Regions from separate parts of the Homo sapiens genome. Here region 1 is linked to region 2. The links come from fine-mapping of genetic effects on gene expression. A gene starts in region 2. The other region holds a variant in brackets. All regions are shown on one strand. Distances are between the middles of the regions. Region 1 overlaps LCMT1 (leucine carboxyl methyltransferase 1). Region 2 holds the start of LCMT1 (leucine carboxyl methyltransferase 1).

What was found. PIP is the estimated chance that this variant, and not a neighbour inherited with it, causes the effect.
Region 1: its variant is fine-mapped to the expression of LCMT1 in whole blood (TOPMed, PIP above 0.99).

The regions. Positions count from the first base shown.
Region 1 is chr16:25,167,103-25,175,102 of GRCh38, forward strand. It overlaps LCMT1 (leucine carboxyl methyltransferase 1), which reads left to right. Exons shown (of 11, transcript NM_016309.3): 8 at 2,010-2,111; 9 at 3,612-3,703; 10 at 7,835-7,932. Among named protein-coding and RNA genes, the nearest start is that of LCMT1-AS2, 22 kb to the left of the region's middle. The variant T/C (reference allele first, on the strand shown) is at 3,609.
Region 2 is chr16:25,107,738-25,116,155 of GRCh38, forward strand. It overlaps LCMT1 (leucine carboxyl methyltransferase 1), which reads left to right and starts at 4,005. Exons shown (of 11, transcript NM_016309.3): 1 at 4,005-4,259. The coding sequence starts at 4,147. LCMT1-AS1 (LCMT1 antisense RNA 1) reads right to left here and starts at 3,818. Exons shown (of 3, transcript NR_120306.1): 1 at 3,659-3,818. RefSeq lists enhancers at 3,428-3,955, 3,733-4,062, 4,153-4,312.

The DNA.
Region 1 (8,000 bases), 59 kb after region 2:
TCACTTTGGAGCAAGCCTGGGAATGTGCCAGTTTTCAAAACGTTGTCCATAGCTGTCCCTAGACTGGTTCTGCTCCCACCCACCACCCTCACCTGGTGAATAATGAACATTTAAGTTAATTCAGTGGTTTCCTAACAAACGCAAAATGACCAGCACCCTCACAAACCATGTATTAATTGCTCACATGCTTTACATTGTTTGCTTTTCCTTTTTTTTGGTCTTTTTTTTTTTTAGAGACAGGGTCTCGTTCTGTCGCCCAGGCTGGAGTACAGTGGTGCCGTCATAGCTCACTGCAGTCTTGAGCTCCCAGGTTCAAGTGATCCTCCCACCTTAGTCTCCCATTAGTTAGGACTGTAGGTGCACACCACCACTCTTGACTTTATTTTTTTGGTAGAGACAGGGTCTTGCTATGTTGTCCAGGCTGGTCTCAAACTCCTGGCCTCAAGCAGTTCTCCAACCCCAGTCTCCCAAAGCCCTGGGACTGCAGGCATCAGCCACCATGCTCAGCTTGTTGCCTAATTAGTAGTTTAAGATGACAAAACTACATGGATGATAATAATTTCAATAATAATTCTAAAGCAGTGGTAGCAAATTCTTAGATTTTGCTTACTATATAGCAGGGACTATTCTATGAATTTTACATATATTAACTTATTTATTTATTTATTTATGTTTTGAGATGGAGTCTTACTCTGTCACCCAGGCTGGAGTGCAGTGGCACGATCTTGGCTCATTGCAACCTCCACCTCCCAGGTTCAAGAGATTCTCCTGCCTCAGCCTCCTGAGTAACTGGGATTACAGGCGTGTGCCACTATTCCTAGCTAATTTTGTATTTTTAATAGAGACAGGGTTTCATGTTGGCCAGGCTGGTCTCAAACTCCTGACCTCAAGTGATCCGCCCACCTCGGCCTCCCAAAGTGCTGGGATTATAGGCGTGAGCTACCGCACCCAGCCTTTTTTTTTTGAGACAGAGTCTCGCTCTGTCATCCAGGCTGGAGTGCAGTTGCGCAATCTCAGCTCACTGCAGCCTCTGCCTCCTGGGTTCAAGTGATTCTCCCGCCTCAGCCTCCTGAGTAGCTGGGATAACAGGCACGTGCCACTGCGCCTGGCTGATTTTTGTATTTTTAGTGGGGATGGAGTTTCACCATGTTGGCCAGGCTGGTATTGAATTCCTGGCCTCAAGTGATCCACCTGCCTCAGCCTCCCAAAGTGCTGAGATTACAGACATGGCCACCATGCCTGGCCTAAAGTGAGTTTTTGAAAAAGCAATAGTGTATATACTACAATGGTGTACACTAATATTGTTTCCTGGCCTTTTTCATATATAATTTTGGGTTTTTTAGATTAGTTTTTGTAATTTAAAAAGTAATACCATATGTAGAGTACAAAAATTAAAAATAGAACAGGGTAGACAAGGAAAAGTAAATCTCTCTCCTGCCCCAGACTTTGGTCCTCTAATCTGGGAAGCAAGGCTGCCACATTCCAGAATTTTTCTATGTACATAGAGAGATTCTTTTTTTCCTTGAAGACAGATGGGCTCATACTATCCATATTCCTCTGTACTTCACTTTTCAAGAGTTTACCCTAGAGGTCATTTCATGTCTATATCTGTCTTCTCTGTTTTCATGGCTATATATAATTTCATTATACAAACATGCCAGGAGTTATTTCCAGATTCTTCCTATTATACCTAATGCTGTGATAAACATTCTTGCATCTTAGCATACATGTGGGAGTGTGTCTGTAGGATAGATTGCTTTTGGTGGAATTGGTGGATCACAAGTTGAGCATTTAAAATGGTTGTATCCTGCCCAGTTTCCCTTCCAGGGCTACCCAAGTTTATGCTCCCGCCAGCACCGTGCTGGTGCCCGCCCCTCAGTCCGTTTCCTATGCTGGGTGTGCGTCATCAAGCGTCAGCCTCGGCTGCTTAAAAATAGGATGAATGATGTTTTATTTTGCATATTTAGGAAACCCTTAGAGTAATATCTTACCTTCTCTTTCCCTCCTAGGTGAACATGGGTGATCGGTTTGGGCAGATCATGATTGAAAACCTGCGGAGACGCCAGTGTGACCTGGCGGGAGTGGAGACCTGCAAGTCATTAGAGTCACAGGTCAGAGAGCAGGGACTGGGATATCCATTTGGACCCTTAGTCAACCAAGATATATAAAGGTCTTTCTTTGCAGATGTGATCATGGAGAAGCCCTGTTCAGTGCCTGTCAGCAGCACAGGCTGCTGAGCCTCCATGTGGGCCGCTAGTTCATGATGCTGGGAAGACCAAGTCCTGCTTCACCATCACATTTCCTACACCCTATTATTTTGACTTTGTATTACGCAAATTTTCAAACAAACATAAAGGTAGAGGGAATGGTGAAATAAACACACACGTCTCATCACCTAACTTCAGTATTTCTTATATTATCAGTGTTATTTCCTATATTCCCCCACAATTTTTTTGTAGATGTTGGAATATTTTCAGGCAAATCCCAGACAGCACATGATTTCACCCCTAAATACACATGTGAATCACCTTCCAATAAGGACTTTCTTCTCCCAGGATGATGATAATACCATTTCACAGATCATACAAGTTGACAACTCCTTCATAGCATTTAATGCCCAGTTCATGTTCAGTTTCCCCAGTTGTTTAAAAAACCTTTTTTTTATAGTTGATGTGTTTGAATCAGGATTTAAACATTGTCCACACTTTGCAGATGATTGATATGTCCCTTAAACCTCTTTGACTCTATGTTAATGCCCCCTCCCTTTAAAAAAGTCATCTATTTTTTCTCATAACACCTCCCACCCCGCCCCCATATAAGTAGGTTCATTTTTTTGGGCGGGCGCGGTGGCTCACACCTATAATCCCAGCACTTTGGGATGCTGAGGCGGGCGGATCACCTGAGTTCAGGAGTTCGACACTAGCCTGGCCAACATGGTGAAACCCCATCTCTACTAAAAATACAAAAATTAGCCGGGTGTGGTGGTGCACACCTGTAATCCCAGCTACTTGGGAGACTGAGGCAGGAGATTTGCTTGAACCTGGGAGATGGAGGTTGCAGTGAGCCAAAATCAAACTACTGTACTCCAGCCTGGGCAACAGAGTGAGCCTCCGTCTCAAAAAAAAATTAAATAAATAAATAGGTTCATTTTTACATATCTTTTGTCACATAACAATTAGAGTGCTTTAAAAAACTGTCACTCATAGAAAAGTTCTTCCTTTATTTCTCTTTGGAAGTACTTTAGTGAACTTCCCCCCATTATAACAATGCTTGTTCAATATGGAAAGTTGGAAAGTTAAAAAAAGGTGTTAGGGTCTAGGATGGGCTTTTGAGAAAGGAGTCGTCTCAGAGGAGGTCTGGTGTGCTTAAGAGCATTTCAGTACCAAGCACACTGGCTCACACCTCTCATCCCAGCACCTTGGGTGGCAGAGCGGGGAGGATCGCTTGAGCCCGGTGGGTCAAGGCTGCAGTGAGCTGTGATCACACCACTGCACTTCAGCCTGGGCAACAGAATGAGACCTTGTCTCTTTAAAACAAAACAGTGTCTTAGATTTGTAAGCCGGTGCCTGGTAGTTCTCTAGTTCTCCATTTCTCTTCGTTGCACATTT[T/C]AGAAAGAACGGCTCCTGTCGAATGGGTGGGAAACAGCATCGGCCGTCGACATGATGGAGTTGTACAACAGGTTACCTCGAGCTGAAGTGAGCAGGTATGGGGTTGGTGAGCGTCAGCTTGATGGGCATTCATTGTGAACTCAAGGCATGATTGCCTGTATTCTTTCATGCAGAAAAACAGAACAATATGTGGAGATTTCATTAAAAAACAAAAAACAAACAAACAAATAAAAAACAAGGCCAGGCACGGTGGCTCACACCTGTAATCCCAGCACTTTGGGAGGCATAGGCGGGCAGATCACTTGAGGTCAGGTCAGGAGTTCGAGACCGGCCTGGCCAACATGGTGAAACCTTGTCTCTACTAAAAATGCAAAAATTAGCCAGGTAGGGTGGTGCACATTTATAATGCCAACTACTTGGGAGGCTGAGCCGGGAGAATCACTTAAACCTGGGGCGGGGGCAGAGGTTGCAGTGAGCTGAGATCGTGCCGCTTCACTCCAGCCTGGGCAAAAGAGCAAAACTCTTGTCTCCAAAAATAAATAAAAATACAAAAATTAGCCGGGTGTGGTGGCACACATCTGTAATCCCAGCTACTAGGGAGGCTGAAGCAGGAGAATTACTTGAATCCAAGAGGCGGAGGTTGCAGTGAGCTGAGATGTGCAATTGTATCCAGCCTGTGCGACAGAGCAAGACTGCTTCTCAAAAAAACAAACAAACAAACAAACAAAAAAAAACCCCAAAAAACAAGACCCTAACTAGACCTATTTTGAAACAAGTTAAACACTGATAGCAGCTTGAAAGTAACTCATTAGCTATTAGCTGAGATAGGGCTTATGCCCAAACTGATTATTTTAGTGAAAACAAGCAATGACACCTGGAAAACTCCCAGAGCAACCTTGGCAGTGGAAATTTTACATAATCCCTGCTTTGGAGAGGGAGGAAAACGACGTTGTTCAAGGACGTATAAGGGGCTGGCGGGTTTTTAAATGGACTTTTCTCCCCATTATAAAGGAAATCTATGCTTCTTGTTCTAAAAAGTTCCTCAAGCATTCTAAAGTGCATGAAGTATAAAGTAGTTGTCCATTCTGTAGTCACACCTGGGAGGTAGCAGTTCTTAACATATTGGGGAATATTCTTTTCCTACATAGATAGATAAATATTTATTGATACATAGATTTCTATTTTTTGAATCTGTGGATTCATACTACACATACTGGTCTGTAAACCACCATCCTTTTTGAAAACAATAGATTGTATTTGCCTTTACATATCAAAATATTGAGGGTTGCCATATCCCATTTAAGGGTACATAGGGCCAGGTGCGGTGGCTCACACCTGTAATCCCAGCACTTTGGGAGCCCAAGGCAGGTGGATCACCTGAGGTTAGGAGTTCGATACCAGCCTGGCCAACATGGTGAAACCCTGTCTCTACTAAAAATACAAAAAATTAGCTGGGCATGGTGGCGGGCGCCTGTAATCCCAGTTACTTGGGAGGCTGAGGCAGAAGAATTGCTTGAACCTGGGAGGCGGAGGTTGCAGTGAGCCGAGGTAGCACCATTTGTACTCTGGCCTGGGCAACAAGAGCGAAACTCTGTCTCAAAAAAAAAAAAAATAGGGTACATAGTATTTATATTGATTTACGCAGATACAGTATATTGATGATAATTTTTAAGTAATTAAAAATGTCTGTAGCTGGGCATTTAGTTGCGGTGTCTTGTTTATTCATCATGTTTTCATTTGCCTGTTATAAACAACACTGGAGAGAACATCACCAACGTGCATCTGTGTACAGCGCTAGTGCGCACTTCAGCTCTTTTTTTTGTAATCACTCTGTGCTTCCTGATTCATGCTTCCTTCTTGCCTTTGGAGACCTAAGATCAATAGCCTTTGGTCTCTTACAAGATCATGAGAAGAATTTTGGCTTTGCTTTTCCATATAACTTATTAACATTTAGGCATATCACTGTTTTTCCCAAATATGTACATGAATAATTGGCAATGAAAGCCTAGAGGGTTTGAGAAAGTGCTGTCTCCACGTGATCAGGTCAATGCTTCCTGGATTCTTCCAGAAGCATCCTTCCCCACAGGCTGGTTTTCATTTGCTACATGTCAAGACGACTGTTTTGAACATCCCTGATCTGGCCCCTGAAATGGGGATGCTCTGGCACTGCTTCTAGATGCCCAGAAAGGAGCCTCTGACTAGCATCAACCACAAGGAAAGTCTCTTGCCTCCAGGCAGTCATTTGTCTCATGTTTCCAGGACCTTCTGTAGATAGCAGCGTGTAACCCTCACGGGGGAGGCGGGTAAGGAGATTGGAAGGCCTTTGTCTATGCCAGGTCGAACAGCCTTTCCAGCTCTGTGAATGCCACGTAGTTTGTATCTGCTTTTGCCGGAAACTGTAGAGTATAATAGGAAGTCTAAGGCGAGCCTGTTCATTGAACAAATGCTGAGTTGAGTGTCTGCTGTGTGCCCGGCACTTTTCTAAGCACCAGAGATACAGCAATGATCAAAACAGGACAAAAGACATTCCTGCCCTTGGGAGTGCTCATTCTAGTGAACAGCTTAATAATTAGTAGTGTCTCCTGATAGCTGTTCTTGGTAATAACCATCCTGGAGCCTTCAGTATGGTACTGGATTTTTCTAGAACTTGGTATCAGATCTGCTTTGGATGTCTCCTGGTAGAATGACTTGGGAAACAACCACATTACTTTATGTGTAGGCATTCTTACTTCAGATTTGGTCCTGAAGCCTGCATACCAAGACGGGAATGAACTCACAAATACAGAAACATGCACAGACACACACGTGTTCACACCTGGGTGTACGTGCACACATATAACAGACAAGGCCTGGGCAACTGGCAGGATTCATATGTTAGCAGTGGCTATTGTGAATAGTAGGAATATGGATCCTGTTTCTTTTTTTATTTTATTCTGTATACTTTTTGAAAATGCCGGACTTTTCCTCCATAGTGTGTACCTATTTTGACAGAAACTTTTTTTTTGTTTTTTTTTGATAGAGATGGAGTCTTGCTATGTTGCCTAGGCTGGTCTCAAACTCTGGGCCTCAAGTGATTCTCCCACCTTGGCCTCCCAAAGCTCTGGCATTAGAGGCGTGAGCCACTGCTCCTGGCAAACAGAAACTTTTTTAAAACGCTATTTCCATATGTTTGTGCATGTTTCTCTGTGTGTGTATATAGTTATTTATTTTTATTTTTTTGAGACCGAGTCTCGCTCTGTCACCAAGGCTGGAGTACAGTGGCGCGATCTCTGCTTACTGCAACCTCCGCCTTCCAGGTTCAAGCAATTCTCCTGCCTCAGCCTCCCAAATAGCTGTGACTACAGGTGGGCACCACCATGCCAGGCTAATTTTTGTATTTTTAATAGAGATGGGGTTTCACCATGTTGGCCAGGCTGGTCTCGAACTCCTGACCTCAGGAGATCCACCCACCATGGCCTCCCAAAGTGCTGGGATTACAGGCGTGAGGCACTTCACCCAACCTGTGTATGTATGTTTAAAAGTTTACATTTAAAAGGCTTTTTGGGAAAAGTCATACATGCATATAATTTTTTACAAAACCAAAATGAAGTAGTATAGAGTAAAAACAACCCTCCTCACTACTGGTCTACTACCTTCTCTCTTAAGAGACAACTACCATTTCTAGTTTCTTCTGTATTTTCCAAAAGTCTGTACATATACAGACAAATTTGTCTCACTTTTTCTTTACATAGAGAGTGGTGTAATATGCACATTACTTGCTTTTTAAATTACGCAACTTGCTTTTTAAATTCCATGATATATATGTCTTGGAGGTTATTGCATATTAATACGTATGGACCTACCCCATTTTTAAAAATGGCTGCATAGTGTCCTGTTTTGACAGTATGAATCTGCTTCAATTTACTCTGCCTGTCTCCTCCAGTTGCCACTAGTTTTTCTTACTGAAGTTTAACAGCTCTTTATATAATAAGGAACTCAGCCCTTTGCCACTTGAATTGCAAATATATGTTTCTAGTTTGGCATTTGTATTTTGACTTTGTTTATGGTATTTTTTCTTCTTTTCAGTGAAAAGACATTAAAATGGAGCCACACCATAATTACTATTTTATAGCCGCCTTCTTTCCACTTAATCTATCATAAACATTTTTTCATATCCGTAGCTATGGGCCATGATCTTCATTTTCAATGCAGACACTTGCATCGTTCTATTTTAATTCTTTCCACAGGATAGAATCACTTGAATTCCTGGATGAAATGGAGCTGCTGGAGCAGCTCATGCGGCATTACTGCCTTTGCTGGGCAACCAAAGGAGGAAATGAGCTTGGTGCGTGATTGTACTTTTCTTGCCTTGACCTGGAAATAGTGAACTTTTCTTTTTCCTATTCTTTCCCT
Region 2 (8,418 bases):
GGTTTTCCATCGAGAGAGAAGTTGAACAACAAATGCCATTCCCTGTCCATTTTATTTTTTTCATCATCAGTGACTAGGCCACTGACTGCCAGGGATGTGCATTTCTTAGGGGTCAGAAGAACAGAGAGCAGCAGCAGCGCAACAGTGCCACAGGAAACATCACTACCCTTGCTAGAACAATTACTGTTAGGACACAGGCAGGGAGCCATTCCTAAATCTTCCTGGGGTGATGGGTGATGGTCTCCTTCCTTGCCACAAACAACATAAAGGATTGTTCCCATGACTGTGCTGGGGGCACACTTTCCTAACAGTGTCTCTATGGCTGTCCCAAGCAGCTAGTGATGGTCACAAGGCTAGACGCAGTGACCAAAGAGTTCTAATCTGAACATCAGTGAGTAGAACTCAAGCACCCACTGGTTAGGATGTTGTGTTGCTGCTGCCCCCAGGTGGGAGCCTCAGAGACCACGTGGCGGACACACAGGCCACACCTGATGGCACCTACCAAGTTCAAGTGTGGCAAAAAAGAGAGCTCTGCTAATAAACTGAGCAACTTCCATTCAACTCCTGGGATTCATTCTGATTGGAACAACCTGGTTAGCCCTTCCCCCAATCCCCACCACCCTCTGAAGCATGACAAGGTGATTTTGGGTGCCAATTGGCCAGACCTTGGCAAGTTTCCACCCCTAGAGTCAGGCAAGGAGCCTTGCTTTTTTTTCTTTTTCTTTTTCTTTTTTTCGAGACAGACTTTCGCTCTTGTTGCCTAGGTTGGAGTGCAGTGGCACGATCTCGGCTCACTGCAACCTCTGCCTCCTGGGTTTAAGCGATTCTTCTGCCTCAGCCTCCTGAGTAGCTGGGACTACAGGCGCGCACCACCATGCCCAGCCATTTTTTGTGTTTTTAGTAGAGATGGAGTTTCACCATGTTGGCCAGGCTGGTCTTGAACTCCTGACCTCATGATCCACCCGCCTCGGCCTCCCAAATCCCGCCTCGGTGACTGGGATTACAGGTGTGAGCCACCACGCCTGGCCAGGAGAGAAGCTTAGTTTTCCATAAGAAGCTGTAGCTTTTTTTTTTTTTTTTTGGAGACAGTTTCGCTCTTGTTGCCCAGGCTGGAGTACAATAGCGCAATCTCGGCTCACCACAACCCCTGCCTTCAGGGTTCAGGCAATTCTCCTGCCTCAGCCTCCGGAGTAGCTGGGATTACAGGCATGCGCCATCATGCCTGGCTAATTTTTATTTTTAGTAGAGATGGGGTTTCACCATGTTGGTCAGGCTGGTCTCGAACTTCTGACCTCAGGTGATCCACTTGCCCCGGCCTCCCAAAGTACTGGGATTACAGGCATGAGCCACCATGCCAGCTTTTTGTTTGTTTTTTGAGACGGAGTTTTGCTCTTGTCCCCTAAGCTGGAGTTCAATGGCACGATCTCAGCTCACTGCAACCTCCACCTCCCGGGTTCAAGTGATTCTCCTGCCTCAACCTCCCTAGTAGCTGAGATTATAGGCGCCTGCCACCATGCCTGGCTAATTTTTGTATTTTTAGTAGAGACGAGGTTTCACCATGTTGGCCAGGCTGATCTCAAACTCTTGACCTCAGGTGATCCACCCACCTCGGACTCCCAAAGTGCTGGGATTACAGGTGTGAGCCACCGCGCCCAGCCCACTCTAGCTATTTTTTATAGAAGAAAGAGATACTGGAGAGCCAAAGCAACAATTGTCCATTGTAGCCTTTTGGGGAGAGATTCCATGGTGAATGCCTAACTTTTGGCCCACAATATTAATGTCCAAGAGCTTTTACACTTCCACAACTCTTCTCCTGACTTTGTCAAAAGATGCAGTCTAGTTGGCAGTGAACTTTCTCTGGCTGGGATATGGCTCAAAGACTACCCCAGCATTGTCTCTTGCATTAAGGTATCATTTAGCCTGAGATGGCTAAGCTTGCAATCTCCAGACTCCACGCTGTCATAAACTTTCAGATCCTCAACCAGGAACTTACATGGAATGAGCTGGCCCTGGAGGTCAGCTGGAAGATGGCCAAATTCCTCTGAATCACCAGCTATTTTGAATCAAAGGCTCATCCAACAACAAAAGTGTATAAACCCATCTGCCTCCGCCTTCTTCCAGTCACCCCCAGTCTCACTGTCCAGACCTGTGGGATTAACACCGTATAGTACTTGCTGTTAACACTTACTATCCACTAACACCCGTGGAATGTGGACACTGCTAAGCTGGGAGATGATGCTTGTGCAATAGTTTGTATTACCCTTTTGGCAAAGGACCACTCCAAGAAAATGGTGTATTTCATCCCATCAGCATTCCCCCTGGCAAAGCTCTCCACCCTTAGTCATTCCCCTCTTGTCATTTCTACTGTGGCTATCAATGAGATCTTGTGCCTCCATTAGAATACTGAGCTAGCATTTGATATTTGACCTCACTCCAAGGTGTGTATTCTGGGTTTCTGTTGTTGATTTTCTTTTTAAAAAAATGAGTGCAATTCAAAGTTCTTAAAGTATATCTGTTTCCTGCTTCCAACAACTGACAGATAACAAAATGGAATATACAAAGACATTTTTAATTTATAATGTATATTAAACATTATTATACATATACAACTTACAAGGGTTGCTTCTGGCTGGATTCTCTGCCAATCGCCCGAACACTGAGGATTCTGCTAGTTGTTCTGCCCTGAGTTAATTATAGCTATAAAATTTCATCACCAGCAAGAAACCAGGCGACTTCCCCAGTACATCTTGAATTTATACATATATTTTGTACTAGATTTAGTACAAAATAAATCCAAAACATCTTGAATATGCCTCATAATGAAACAGACACACGTGAACCCACTCCCACGTGAGAAACTGAGGATGTGTCTATGTGCTCCTTCCCTGCCTCTCCCTCCCCCTCTTGTGTGCTACCCTCCCGGCTCCCTAAAGATCACCAATATCCTGATTCTTTTTTATTTTTTTTTCTCATGTCTTGCCTTCTCTGTACAGTATTTTACCATATATGTACGTTTCTCTAAACAACATTAGTTTTACTTGGTTTGAACTTTACAAAAGTGTTGTTAGACTTCCTTCTTTCACTGAACATCGTGTTTCTGAGATTCAGCCATTGATGCTGCTACCTGGTAGCTCTAGTTCATTTATGATCGCTGCTACATGGCTTCCTATTGTATTACTTTTCCACACACTACTTCCCTCACTACATTTCTTTTCTTTCTTTCTTTTATTTATTTGTTTATTTATTTTTTTGAGACGGAGTCTCGCTCTGTCGCTCAGGACGGAATGCAGTGGCGCCACATGGGCTTACTGCAACCTCCGCCTCCCGGGTTCAAGCGATTCTCCTGCCTCAGCCTCCTGAGTAGCCAGGACTAAGGCGGCCGCCACCACGCCCGGCTAATTTTTGTACTTTTAGTAACAACGGTGTTTCACCATGTTGGCCAGGCTGGTCTCGAACTCCTGACCTCAGGTGATCGGCCCGCCTCGGCTTCCCACAGTGGTGGGATTACAGGAGTGAGCCACTACGCCCGCCCCCCTCACTACATTTCGAAGGCAATTTTGGGGGCAAAGCCCTCAGCACAGTCGCTGGCAGAGTCAGCACACAACAAAATTTTGTAAAATTGAATGACACTGAGCCCGGACTGAATGTAACAACTTACACATGTTGCTTCTGGCTGGATTCTCTGCCCTTTGCCCGAACGCTGAGGATTCTGCTAGCTGTTCCGCCCTGAGTTAATTATAGCTATAAAATTTCGCGACCAGCAAGCAGAAACCGGGCGACTTCTCCAGACACCTAAGACTACGCTTCCCAGAAAGGATTGCGATACTCTCCTACTGTTTAGTTTCTTTTTCCTATCGTCAAATTTCCGGGTTATGTGGGCGGTGCCAAAATAATTATCCAATGAGCAACTTCGTAGGCTGAGCGGGCAGGAGAATTGCTCAATGAGCGACTCGGAAGAGGAGCCAATAAGCGGAGAGGTTGCTGGGGTAGCCGGCGTGGGCGGCGTCACTGAGCCGCGCCAGCTGAGCCAGGTAGGGCCCTACCCTCTTCTGTTGCTTTCTCCCTGTGGCTCGCGCCGTCCCCCGCCGCCCGTCGACCCCGCTTCCATGTCCCTGGCGGACACAGCTCCCAGGAACCTCCACGCCCATGGCCACTAGGCAGAGGGAATCCTCTATCACCTCCTGCTGTTCCACCTCGAGCTGCGACGCAGACGACGAGGGCGTGCGCGGCACCTGCGAAGATGCTTCCCTGTGCAAGAGGTGCCTGTCGGGCGCGGGGTTCGGGGCCGGCATCTGGGGCGCGGGCCTAGGTGGGAGGTGGGCCTGCATCTGAAGAATACGCTCAAGGCTGGCAGGGATGCAGCCCCCGCCTCGCACGACCCTCGCTTCCCACCTGTGAAGTGCACGGAGCAGGGCTTCATTTATTTAACGAATCGTTTCTGAGCTTTTGCTGTGAGCCAGGCAGGGGGCCAGCCTGGGTATCGTCGATGGGAGCAGGCCCCTGAGCCAGACAGACGAGGCCTTGGGCTTCTTGGAGCTAAACGCTGCTGGAAAGACAGACATGAAGCAAATAGTAGCTCCAGCCTCGATGGGTTACGAGGATGAGAGGTGTAGGTTCTCTCTCTTTTGTAGGTTGCATTCTTTAGGGGGTTGGTGTGATCCCTGTTGTGCACCTGAAACTCAGGATGACGAGGGGAAATAACCCACCCAGAGCCAAGTAATATCTCTTTGCAGAGCCAGTACCGCACTAAGTCTCCACTGTTAAGGGTGTGGTGGTGGGGATGGGGGCGTAGCCAGCAGAGGTACGTGTCAGAGAAAGAGAAAGCTTGAGGCTTGAATGTCCACCATTTATTCTTTCATTCAACAAAATTTTTTGAGACCTTACTTTGTGCCAGGCCTTTACTTTGCAGTGGTTAGTAGGAATTCGATGGTGGAAATACACCAAGAACAAGACAGACATGGTGTCAGACATACTGGAACTCACAGCTTTGTTGGAAAAGAGAGACAGGAAGCAAATAATTACCTATGAAATATATAATTATGATTTTTTTGTGTTGAGTGCTGACAAATACGGCAGTGCCATTAGAGTTTGTAATTTTGTCAGTGATGTTTAAGGTGAGAAGAGTTTGGGCGCGGTGGTTCACGCCTGTAATCCCAGCACTTTGGGAGGCCGAGGTGGGCAGATCACGAGGTCAGGAGTTCGAGACCATCCTGGCCAACATGGTGAAACCCCATCTCTACTAAAAATACAAATATTAGCTGGGTGTGGTGGCGGGCGCCTGTAATCCCAGCTACTCGGGAGGCTGAGGCCGGAGAATCATTTGAACCCGGGAGGCAGAGGTTGCAGTGAGCCAAGATCACGCTATTGCACTCCAACCTGGATGAGAGTGCGAGACTATGTCTCAAAAAAAAAAAAAAAAAAAAGTGAGAAGAAAAGGCTTGAAAAATAGGAAAGTTGTAGGAGAGTGTTCAGAGGAGTGTGAACTGTTAGAGGAACTCAAAAAATGCTTTAAAGGTGGGAGAAGGAGGCTGAGGCCACGTAGTGATTGTAGAGTGGGGAAAACCAGTGTGTTGGATTAAACCTTGCACTTTTTATAGGTTCTTGGGGACTAAACTTTCAGAGCATGGATTCTGGAGCTAGACTCTGTCAAACTGAGCGTTGCCACTTACTGGCAGTATAAAGTCGGGGAAATTACTAAACTTTTCTGTGGCTCAGTTTCCTGATCTGTAAAATGGGGAGTATAATAACGCATCATAGGTGGGTGTGGACAAAAATGATATTTAATATTAGTAGAGCACTTGGAGCAGTGTCTGGCATGTAGTCCATGTAAGTGGTGATTGATTAAATTAATAAATACACAAGTATTAAAGTCTTAGAGAGAGTCCCTTATGAAATTTGTGAATTTGAGTGGATTATACTCAGCTTTTTCTTCTGTGGCTTTCAGTTGCTATTGGCCACAGCTGTCTTGGCTCCTGGTAACTTCCACCTGCCGGGTTCAAGTGATTCTCCTGCCTCAACCTTCCAAGTAGCTGGGATCACAGGCACACACCACCATGCCCAGCTAATTTTTGCATTTTTAGTGGAGACAGGGCTTCACCACGTTGGCCAGGCTAGTTTCGAACTCCTGAACTCAAGTGATCCGCTCGCCTTGGTCTCCCAAAGTGCTGGGATTACAGGCATGAGCCACCCCACCCAGCCTAGTCTTTTCATTTTTAAAACAGTGATAATAAAGGTAACCTTTATGGGTGTCAGGATTAAATGAGATTATCGATGCAGAGGATCTGACACAAAGTGAAGCCCTCAGTAAATTATTATTGCTAGTTTTGACTTCCCTCCAGGCTGAATATTGTTTAGTTAAAGTTGCTGAATGTGCAGTAGCTATGAGTTAGGGTGGTTCCTGCTGCCCTGAGTGAGTTATGGCTATAAAATAAAAAGCCAGTCAGCCTTCTGGGTACCTGTAAATCTTTTACTTCTGTTTAGTTTGCTTCTTCCTTTGGTATAGAGTCCTTCTGCGGATAAGTAGGATGTTATCTGTCTCAGAGGATTGCTGTGCAGGTGAAATGTGGAGTGCTTGCAGCAGTGCTTGGCATACTGGAGGTGTTCAGAATTGGTAGTTAACAGTCATCACCACCCCCCTCATTGTCATCAAATCATTATCATCATTGTGATCCTGGACTTGTGGTATCAGAAGTTTTCTGGTTGGATATATTAGGTTTACACTAACTCCATTTGACTCAATAGGTATCAATTGAGCACTTTTCATGGTAGCCCACTCTCCTTCCCTTCTCTGCTCTCCTTATGATGTCCATCATGCTATGCCACTGAGTCTGTTCTCCCCTCTTTTGTTTACCTGTGACCCAACCATCCCACCAACCCCTCACTATGTCCTCTGCAGTTACCACCTGATAATCAACATCAGCTTCTATTTTGTTAGCCTCTCCTTAGCCATTCCCTCCCTCCCTTTGCCTTCACCCTGACCTTTCCTCAGGGATATCCTGTTCTTGAAGCCCTCTCCCGTGGCTCCTCCTCCTTCTCATGCCCTGTGTATCTCAGGATCAGGGATTTGAGCTTTGTGTCCTCCTGTGTGTCTCCCGCGTCTCATTCCATGGAGAGCCTTCCTGCCCAACTGGAGCCCTCCTGATTGCTGTTGTTCAGCTCTCCTGATCATTCACCTCATTCATGGAAGACTGGGGTGCCTGGCCCAGAGTGTCCTCTACCTCAGTTCATGACTTCACCTTAGGTGACCTCAGCATCCACATGGAGCCTATGCACGAGGCACTCACTTTCTTGAACACCTGGTCTGCAGTGATCACCTCTTCCTATCTGATTCTGTCACCCATTCCCACCGTGACACCCTGTGCTTTTATCCTGATGCTGCACTGCCTCACAGATGAGAGTGCAACACTCTCCAGCTCTGACCCCTTTTTTCCAAGTTGCTTGACCAGTTATTTTCTATTTCCCATGCTGTGCCCATTTCTTCTTAGCACCTCAGTGGTTCTCTCTGTCTTTTAGATGTTCCCTCTGCTGTTACCTCTTAATTGATTACTTAGAGTTCATCCTTCATCCCTCGGTAATTCTGTTGACAGTGCATTTATCTTCCTTGCCCTTTGGTCTTAGTAGACCCAAAATGCTGGTTTAACCAAACTATCCATTTTTGCCTTGAATACAGGTGCTAGAAATCACACAGTAGGGTGGCTTGGTGCCGCTACGATCATGTCAGCCAACCTCAACTGTGCCCTTAACAGAACCTGACTATCCTAGTTTGTTTCTCAGATCAACTCACTCTCCCTTTCTCCGGATACTTAATTCAGACATTTTCCCCTTTCTTCAGACTTCTGATTTACCCCACTCCTTTTTCATTCTCAAGATAATATCAGCTATTGCTCAACATGGAAAATGGGAACCCTTAGAATGAAACTCCCTTAACCTCCCCCAGAAACTTTGTTTGTTTTGTTTTGAGAGGGAGTTTGGCTGTTGTTGCCCAGGCTGGAGTGCAGTGGCGCGATGTTGGTTCACTGCAACCTCTCCCTCCCGGGTTCAAGCAATTCTCCCACTTCAGCCTCCCGAGTAGCTGGGACTACAGGTGCCTGCCACCACACCCGGCTAATTTTTGTATTTTTAGTAGAGAAGGGGTTTCACCATGTTGGTCAGGCTGGTCTCGAATGCCTGACCTCAGGTGATCCACCTGCCTCAGCCCCTCAAAGTGCTGGGATTACAGGCATGAGCCACCACGCCCAGCCTTCCCCCAAGAAATGTAATCATCCTTTTTCACTTTTACAGTTGTGAATTCCTCCAATAAAGACCACCAGAAACACACCTGTAGTTAAACAAGCTGGGTTTATTACTTGTTGCAAGGAGGGAAGACTCACACTATGAGGAGCTGTGGGGCACATCAGTAAGAGAGTGTTAGACCTTTAG